3 linked regions of the Homo sapiens genome follow. The protein of the gene in region 1 purifies or fractionates together with the protein of each later gene. This does not show direct contact. Each region holds a gene or a part of one and is shown in the gene's direction. Other genes may lie near its edges.

What was found.
Region 2: the proteins of CSN1S1 (region 1) and EMILIN3 purify together in Homo sapiens (affinity purification with mass spectrometry; 2 studies listed by BioGRID and IntAct, with this or other methods). This does not show direct contact.
Region 3: the proteins of CSN1S1 (region 1) and LMF1 purify together in Homo sapiens (affinity purification with mass spectrometry; one large-scale study listed by BioGRID and IntAct). This does not show direct contact.

Annotation. Positions count from the first base shown.
Region 1 is NC_000004.12:69,941,000-69,944,160, forward strand, and holds part of CSN1S1 (alpha-S1-casein isoform 1 precursor), read left to right. Parts: intron 1-19; coding exon 20-61; intron 62-1,046; coding exon 1,047-1,064; intron 1,065-1,536; coding exon 1,537-1,578; intron 1,579-3,161. UniProt on the Homo sapiens protein: Important role in the capacity of milk to transport calcium phosphate. Casoxin D acts as opioid antagonist and has vasorelaxing activity mediated by bradykinin B1 receptors.
Region 2 is NC_000020.11:41,359,354-41,361,690, reverse strand, and holds the end of EMILIN3 (EMILIN-3 precursor), read left to right. Parts: coding exon 1-423; 3' UTR 424-1,729; downstream 1,730-2,337.
Region 3 is NC_000016.10:957,460-961,117, reverse strand, and holds part of LMF1 (lipase maturation factor 1), read left to right. Parts: intron 1-3,658. UniProt on the Homo sapiens protein: Involved in the maturation of specific proteins in the endoplasmic reticulum. Required for maturation and transport of active lipoprotein lipase (LPL) through the secretory pathway. Each LMF1 molecule chaperones 50 or more molecules of LPL.

The DNA of each region.
Region 1 (3,161 bases):
TATTTTTCTTTTTAAATAGGAACAGTTTTGTAGACTGAACGAATACAACCAACTTCAGCTGGTAATATTTTATTCATTATAATACAAAATCATATTCTACTATAGAATTAAAACATATTAAATTTTAAATTGGGGCCATTTCTAAATATATTTTTATTTTTCTTAAGAAATTATTTATTCTAGCCTTGACCAATAATTGGCAAGTTATTTGTATGATTGCCGGCATATTTGCGGGCAATGCTCATTCTCTTTATTCCTGGACTAAAGTTCTATATATTATCCATACTTACTAACCAGGGAGAAAGTGACTACATTCTACTGCAAATCCACTTTTAACCTCCCTGATGATACATTATGTCCTGGTTGAGAATTTCACAAATATGCTTACCTGTGAAATCACAGATATGTCAAATAAACTTTCCATTTAAGGAAACAGGATAGATTCTGGGAAAGGAAACAGGAATGCTAAACATCAGATTTGCTTCTGTCAAAACTCACATAATCTGCTTAACACTGGTTTTGACCCTTTTGAGTAACATAAAAGTCTTTCTTTTGGGAGGACAATAAAAACCTTTCAGTAACTACAAACAAATTTGACGTAATGAAGGCTTTGGGAAATGCTTGGTTTTAGTTCAGCAAAATTGCATGCTAGCATTTTTAATCGTTATCAATAGAGGAAGATGAAAATCAGTAATGAATTTAATATGGACCCTAATTGTTACTCTAGTTTCCATTTTCAGGTAACTTGTGTTTAAAATAGTATCCAAATAAATTTAAACACATTAGTACCCCAATAGAATTCATCATTATTGATCTAGAAAATTACCTGAATAATATATTTTAGTACCATAGATATGATATGGCTAGTCTGTAACCTCCACAACTGTTAGAACCTACTTGTCCTCCTGAGAGATTTTGTAGTATTTTACAGTGGTATCTCCAGTATTTAACATTGTCCCTGAACAAATGAAGGTACCCAGCAAATGTTTCTTATTAATGAGTAAATAAAATGAAAATACTAAAACAGAATGTTTTCTCCTCCCTAGCAAGCTGCCCATGCCCAGGTGAGATTATTTATTAAATCTAAAATATTTTAGTATTTCCTTCATGTGTTATGTTTTTATAATGCATGATTCTCTTTTAACATAAATATATTCTGAGAGAGTGTTCTACCAACACTATCTGATAATATTTTACTTAAAAGTCACAAAAGACAAAATTTAAATAATTAATAAATAGCCATAAATAGAAAAATATGTAGTCCTAGAGAAATGGTAGGTTATTATTTTTCCTCAGAGTATGAACCTTACTAATTGTTTATTTTTCCAAACTATAGTGAGCTTAGCCTTTAGCTAAAATTTTTTTCTGACATTAGAAAATAAAAAGTGTTTTGACATTTTTTGCTAACTGTGGCATAGAATACAGTCTATTCTAAATTTCATGAATGATGTTATGTATACTTCTGGTGCAATGTAAGATAAATGTGTTGTACCAGAAGATGTCTAAGTAATTTAGAATGTGTTTCCTTTTATGCAGGAGCAAATTCGCAGAATGAATGAAAACAGCCATGTCCAAGTGGTAATATTTTGCTTAATATATTACAAAACGATAATATTTTGTTAAGCTTAAATATGTTTGCTCTTAAATAGCCCCCTACTCTTGAAGAGATTTTTTTCTTCTCAAACATTTCTCACTCCCAACTTAAATCTCAGTTCTGACAACTTCTAAGCATATGACCTTGAGCACATTGTGTATTCTCTTGGACCTTTGGTTTCTCATTTGTGGAGAAAAACAATATGTGTCTATCAATTTATTTCCTCCTCCAAAACTCCCATGTCTTGATGTTTACAGTGACATATTGTGTCTTCACATTTAAAGATAATAACTGTATGTTTAATTCAGTGTCTCTTGTCCATTAATGATTCAATTTATGTACAACATGCTAATTAAAAAAAAAAAAACCATGTAAAGAAAGCCATGGAACATCCTCCACAACTAGAGAAAGAAACTTTTAGTTCCTCACAGTACATCAAATTTTACCCTCAGTTTTTTTTTTCTGAAATTCTGTAATCACTGTCACTGGCTAAAGTAAAAAGAAAATAAAGGCAAGTATTCTCTTCATTTGGGCCCCAAAGAATTACTTGGTCTTAATTTTCCATGTGAATATTATTATTATTATTATTATTATTATTATTATTATTATTAGACAGATTCTCACACTGTTGCTGAGCTGGAGTGCAGTGGCACAATCTCAGGTCCCTGCAACCTCTGCCTCCCGGGTTCTAGTGATGCTCATACCTTAGCATCCCAAAGTAGGTGGGATTACCGGCAAGCATCACGATGCCCAGCTAATTTTTGTATTTTTAGTAGAGACAGGTTTTCACCATGTTGGCCAGGTTGGTCTCAAACTCCTGACCTCAAGTGATCCACTCGCCTTGGCCTCCCAAAGTGCTGGGATTACAGGCATGACCTATTACTTCAATGTAATTATTTTTAAAAAAAGTGTGACAACTATATATGCATTTTTCATATTAATGAGGGTTTGGAGTAGCAATAATTTGCCCTATCCTCATGTTCAGTTGGATGTAAATTACTAAACTAGTGCCTTAGTTTGTTTTGTGCTGCTATAGCGGAATACCACAGACTAAGTAATTTATAATGAACAGAAATTTATTTGGTTAACAGTTGTGGAGGCTGTAAGTCCAAGATTGAGAGGCCAACATCTGTCAAGCTAGGGCCTTCTTGTTTCATCATCCCATGGTGGAAGAGCAAAAAAGAATACACAAGAGAGGGTCAAACTCAGTCAAAACAAACTCACCCTTGCAACAGTAAGCCCACTCCTATGATAATAGCATTAATTAATTTGTGAGAGCAGAGCCCTTGTGAACTAATCAGTTCTTCAAAGTCCCACTTCTCATCACTGTTGTATTGCATGTTAAGTTTCCAACATATGATCTTTGGGAAACACATTCAAATCATAGACACTTATTTCTGTCTGTCTGTCTGTCTCTCTCTCTCTCTCTCTCGGTCTCTCTATTAAGAACAGGGCCAGTTCTATCTTGAGGTAGTTACCTTATTTTATCTTAAAAAATTCTAGATTTTATATTTGTTTTAATCTTTACATAGGCAGGTGTCCACAGCAACATTTTAAATGCTTTTAA
Region 2 (2,337 bases), on another chromosome or scaffold:
GAAGCCGAAGTCCAGGCCATCCAGGAGCAGGTCAGCAGCCAAGGCTCCAGGCTTCAGGCTGGCCACAGGCAGGTCCTGAACCTGCGTGGGGAGCTGGAGCAACTCAAGGCTGGTGTGGCCAAGGTGGCCAGTGGGCTGAGCCGCTGCCAGGACACAGCCCAGAAACTTCAGCACACAGTGGGACACTTTGACCAGCGGGTGGCACAAGTGGAGGGTGCGTGCAGGAGGCTGGGCCTGCTGGCCGCGGGCCTGGACAGCTTGCCCACTGAGCCACTGAGGCCCAGAGAGGGCCTGTGGAGCCATGTGGACCAGCTGAATCGTACGCTGGCCCAGCACACGCAGGACATTGCCCGCCTCCGGGATGACCTACTGGACTGCCAGGCCCAGCTGGCTGAGCAGGTGCGGCCAGGGCAAGCCAACTAGACAGGCTGGCCAGGACCCAACCCCTAGATCCCACCAACTCGGGGAACATCACCCCAGAGCCCAGCCTTATCCAGCAGCGCCTTCCAGCCTTCCCTGGCTAGCCCAAATGGCACTAAGGAGGCCACTGAGGGAATCCTCCACGTGGCTGTCCCAGCCACCAAAACCCATGCACAGTGCTGCAGAAACTGGACAGTTCCGGACAGCGGTCAAGGCAAGGATGTCATGCTTGAAGGCCAGGGTAGACTTGAGAGAGTTCACATTCCACTGTCAGCAAATCAGTGTCTGGACAGCCAGCTGCAGGGCCTGAGCATGGCTGGCAGGGGCAGCTGCTGTGGCAAACTGGCCTTGATCAGTGTCCGTATGTAAGGCCTTGAGAGGACCCTGCAGGCAGTCAGCACCAGCCTCAGCAACTGTGCAGAGACCTACAGGCCCACAGCCAGTGGCCTGTCCGCATTGCCCTGTGCCCACAAGCAACAGTCCACAGCCCTTGGTGGCTTCTGTTCCTTGTCCCCTCGGCTTCTCTTCGCAGCCATCAGGACTAGGTTTGTGCAGGAAGGTGATGCCCACTGGAACTCTCCTCACACCTGGCAGCTTCATGGATGTTGTATCTGAACTAAGGACCAGAGGCTGCCAGATGTTTCTGGCTCCTCACGTGTCCTTCAGGACAGAACAGAAGCACAAAGACTCAGCCAAGAGTTCTCTTTATTCCCTTTGATCCTCCCCCAAGGTGAGGGCTTAGGCAGCTGTAGAACCCCAGGAAAGAACGGAATCCAGGCAATCTGTTTAGAGACCCCCCACTCCAAATTTATCCTTTTCCTTTCCTTCCCCTAAGATGTTTCCAGGGCCCTCTGGTGCCCACACTGTCCTCTTCCTTCCACTTGGGGGTGGGGAAATCCTTCCTGCGAGGTCAGGGCATTTCTCTACAAAGTGGCCTGAATGAGGCCAGGCCCTGAGAAGGAGCCACCAGCTGGAGGAAAGGGGCTCCAAGCCTTGCTTTTAACACCCCTGCAAAACCCCCACCCTCCCAAGATGTTCACAAAAGGTGAGAAATTCAGGTACGAAACCATCAATGGACAACTTGAAAATGCATGTTCCTCAGGCCTATGCAGTTCCCAGAGACTCTTGACACCGGTCTCTGCTGAGGCTCCCAGCCTCAGTTTCCCCCACAGCAGCACGGGCCCCACTGTGCTGCTCTTCAGGTCCCCACAGCCCTGCCTTTGGTTCCTGGACATTTGGTATTCTGCCCTCCACTCTGGTACTATCAGAGTAGGGCAGGCTCTGGATTAAAGCTTTTAGCCGGTCTAAAGCTACTTTCTTCAAAGACAGTGGGAGGAGAGGTTGCTGGGGCATCAGCCCTGCTTCCCACAGCTCCTTAGGCAAGAGCTTACCCAGCAGCTGTGAGCACCAAGCTGGCCAGCAGAGGCTGGGGGAGGACTTTCAGGCCAACACCTGCCCCAGCTGAGTTTGGGACTGTCCTTAAGCGAGGTCTGGAGAGAGGCAGCGGCAGCAGCCGGACGGGGAGCAGGCCAAGCCGGAACCACAGCCTGCAGGTGTGGGTGTGTGTCATGTGCTGAGATGCCAGGGCACCAGCAAGGGGGATATGTTGGCAGTGATGTCTGGCTTCGGAGGGTACAGTCCTGGCTCCCAGACAAGGGGCGGGGAGAACACTGTGTCCTTCCAGAGGCTGTACCACACTCCCACTGCTGTCACCCTTCACTGAAGCCTCGAGCCTCGGTAGGGCCTCCCTCTTCTCCCTGTCCTATCAAGACTTACAGCAAGGTCCCAGGTTGACAGGGAGACAGATATCAAGGGCATAGAAAACCCTGCAAGGAGGCCTGGCATGGTAGCTCATGCCTGTAATCCCAGCACTTTGGGAGGCCGAGGTGGGCAAATCACTTGAGGTCAGGAGTTCGA
Region 3 (3,658 bases), on another chromosome or scaffold:
TGTCTGGGTCGTGATCCCGTGCTGTCACCGTGAGTCTGTGTCTGGGTCGTGATCCCGTGCTGTCACCGTGAGTCTGTGTCTGGGTCGTGATCCCGTGCTGTCACCGTGAGTCTGTCTGGGTCGTGATCCCGTGCTGTCACCGTGAGTCTGTGTCTGGGTCGTGATCCCGTGCTGTCACCGTGAGTCTGTGTCTGGGTCGTGATCCCGTGCTGTCACCGTGAGTCTGTCTGGGTCGTGATCCCGTGTTGTCACCGTGAGTCTGTGTCTGGGTCGTGATCCCGTGCTGTCACCGTGAGTCTGTGTCTGGGTCGTGATCCCGTGCTGTCACCGTGAGTCTGTGTCTGGGTCGTGATCCCGTGCTGTCACCGTGAGTCTGTCTGGGTCGTGATCCCGTGCTGTCACCGTGAGTCTGTGTCTGGGTCGTGATCCCGTGCTGTCACCGTGAGTCTGTGTCTGGGTCGTGATCCCGTGCTGTCACCGTGAGTCTGTCTGGGTCGTGATCCCGTGTTGTCACCGTGAGTCTGTGTCTGGGTCGTGATCCCGTGCTGTCACCGTGAGTCTGTGTCTGGGTCGTGATCCCGTGTTGTCACCATGAGATGGTGTCTGGGTTGTGATCCAGTGTTGTCACCGTGAGTCTGTGTCTGGGTCGTGATCCCGTGCTGTCACCGTGAGTCTGTGTCTGGGTCGTGATCCCGTGCTGTCACCGTGAGTCTGTGTCTGGGTCGTGATCCCGTGCTGTCACCGTGAGTCTGTGTCTGGGTCGTGATCCCGTGCTGTCACCGTGAGTCTGTGTCTGGGTTGTGATCCAGTGTTGTCACTGTGAGTCTTTGTCTGGGTTATGATCCAGTGCTGTCACTGTGAGTTTGCTGCTCAGCTCCTCCAGCTTTGACCACTGGTGGGTTTCCCCTCCTTCCCCGCAGGGATGCTTCCGGCCCAGCTTCTGTTTCTCTGCCCCAGCCCTAGAATGAGTTGTTTCCAAGGAGCCCTGGTTCTTTTTAGGGGAGCATAGAAACTTCAGTCTGGGCACTGGGAGGGCCGTTGCTCCCGGGGTGTCACAGCTGCTGGCCCTCTTCCTGGGTAGAGCTAGGCTCTGTGTGTCACTATCTCATTTCACACATTTGATTGCTTCTCTGTCGTATCCACCTATCCATCTGTAAGTATACGAAGGTCAACCTGGTCCATGCCGATGACTCTGACTCTCACCTGGCACACGGTGTATTCCAGCCTTCCGTCCTGGAACATGGTGTATTCCATCCTCCCGTCCTGGCACACGGTGTATTCCAGTCTTCCCTGCTGGCCCATCTGAATCCTCCCTCTCTGCTAGTGGGAACCTGGCTCCCCTGACTCCTCTAGCATCTGCTCAGCCCTGGTGCACGTGCGAGAATTGTCCACCCAGGCCCGGGGGGGAAAGCCCTGGAGTGCAGCGTTTGTGTACAGCTCCTTCTGGCCTTGCGGTCTCCACTCAGAACATTTTCCGGAGTTGCTTAGGCGGCTCCTGCCCTCTGGCCAGTGTGTTTCTGTTTCACATCCGTGCGTGTGGAGCCTGTATTCTATCTGCATCCCCCAACCTCCTGGTCGGGTCTTCCCCCAATAGTTTGTGCACATTGAAGTTCATCTCGTGTAATGCTCAGTGCTGTGGGCTTTGCCTCCATCACCCCAGCTCCAGCCCCAAGTCCCCCGTGCATGGGAGTGACCACTTCCCCTGCACCAGCCCCTGGCACGCCCGGGTCTGTCTCCCGTCCCTCTGGTTTTGCCTTTTCCAGTGTGACATACGAATGAAATCACGCAGTATATAGCCTGTTGGGTCTAGATTCTTTTGCTTAGCAAAATGCACTTAAGATTCATCCATGTTATTGCCTGAACCAACAGCTGCATTCTTATCTCTGATTATTTTTCTGTTGCACAAATGCACCTCCGGTTATTTATCCACTTCCACCGTGAAGGATGTCTTCCTTGTTTCTAGTTTTTAGTGGCTATGAACAGAGCTGCTATGAGCATCTGCATGAGGCTTCTGTGCGAGCACACTTTCAGGTTGAAGGCCTGAGAGGTGCAGTAGCTGATTTGTAAGGTAACCCTTCATTATCTGGGTCAGATGCCACCGTCTGCCATCCACAGTGGTAGGCCACAGCATCCCCGGCACAGCGAGGGCACTCCTGCTGTCCCGAACCTTCTGCAGCATTGGGCACTGTCCATGTTCGTGTTTTTTTTGTTTTGTTTTTTTGGTTTTTTTTTTGAGACAGTCTTACTCTGTCGCCGAGGCTGGAGTGCAGTGGCGCTGTGTCGGCTCACTCCAACCTCCGCCTCCTGGGTTCAAGCAATTCTCCTGCCTCAGCCTTGCGAGTAGCTGGGATTCCAGGTGTGCACCACTATGCCCAGCTAATTTTTGTATTTTTAGTAGAGACGGGGTTTCACCACATTGGCCAGGCTGGTCTTGAACTCCTGACCTCAGGTGATCTGCCCACCTCGGCCTCCCAAAGCGCTGGGATTACAGGCATGAGCCACCGCGCCCGGCCTGGGCACTGTCCGTTTTCAAGCACTTCGGCCATGTGACGTGTGTGTGGTGACAGCACGCTGTGGTTTTCATGGGCATTTCCGCAGTGATGAAGGATGTTGAGCATCTTTTCACGTGTTATTTGCCATCCGTACACCTTCCTATGTCTGTTCAGACCTTGTGGCCTGGTTTTTTCTTCCCACCTTTAACATTGGGTTGTTTGTTTTCTAATTATTGAATTTTAAAAGTTCTTTAAATATTCTAGATACAAATCCTTTATCAGATGTGTGATTTGCCAGTATTTTCTTCCAATCTGCGGCTTGTGTTTTCATTCTGTTAAAAGTAGCTTTTGCAGATCAAAAGTTTTTCAGTTTGATAAAGTTCAATTTACAGTTTCTAATTTCATAGATTATGCTTTTGGTGTTGTATCTAAAAACTTGTTGCCAAACCCAAGTCACATAGATTTTCTTCTATATTTCCATCTGGAAGTCTTATGCTTTTATGTTTTACATTTAGGTCTATGATCCTTTTTGGTTAATTTTTGTGTAAGGTGTGAAGTGTGTTCAGGTCCATCTTTTTGCATGTGGACATCCATCTGTTCCAACATGATTGTTACAGAGACTCTTCTTTGTTTTTTTATTTATTTTGTAGAGACTGAGTCTCACTATGTTGCCCAGGCTGCTCTGGAATTCCTGGGCTCAAGCGATCCTCCTGCCTCAGCCTCCCAAAGTGCTGGGATGACAGGTGTGAGCCACCACGCCCGGCCCAAGGCTGCTCTTTGTCTGTGTAGTTGCCTTTGAACCTTTGTCAGAATTTGTTCACTCTGTGTGTCGGGTCGGGGGCAGGGGGGCTGTGTCTGGGCCGTCTCTTCCATTCCATTGAGTTCTGCGGCTCTTCCTTAATCAATACTGCGCTGTCTTGATGTGGTCTTGATTAGCTTTTTAGTAAGTCTTGAAATTGGGTAACATGAGTCCTCCACCTCTGTTCTTTTCCAGATGATTTTGGCTTTTTAATCCCTTTGCTCTCCCATGTATATTCTAGAATCAGCTTGTCAGCCTCGGCGGAAGCACTGACTGGGTGTTTGGTTCAGATTGTGCCGAATTTATGGATCAAATTGACACCTTAATGATTTTGATTTTTCCAATCCATGAACATGGTCTATCTCTT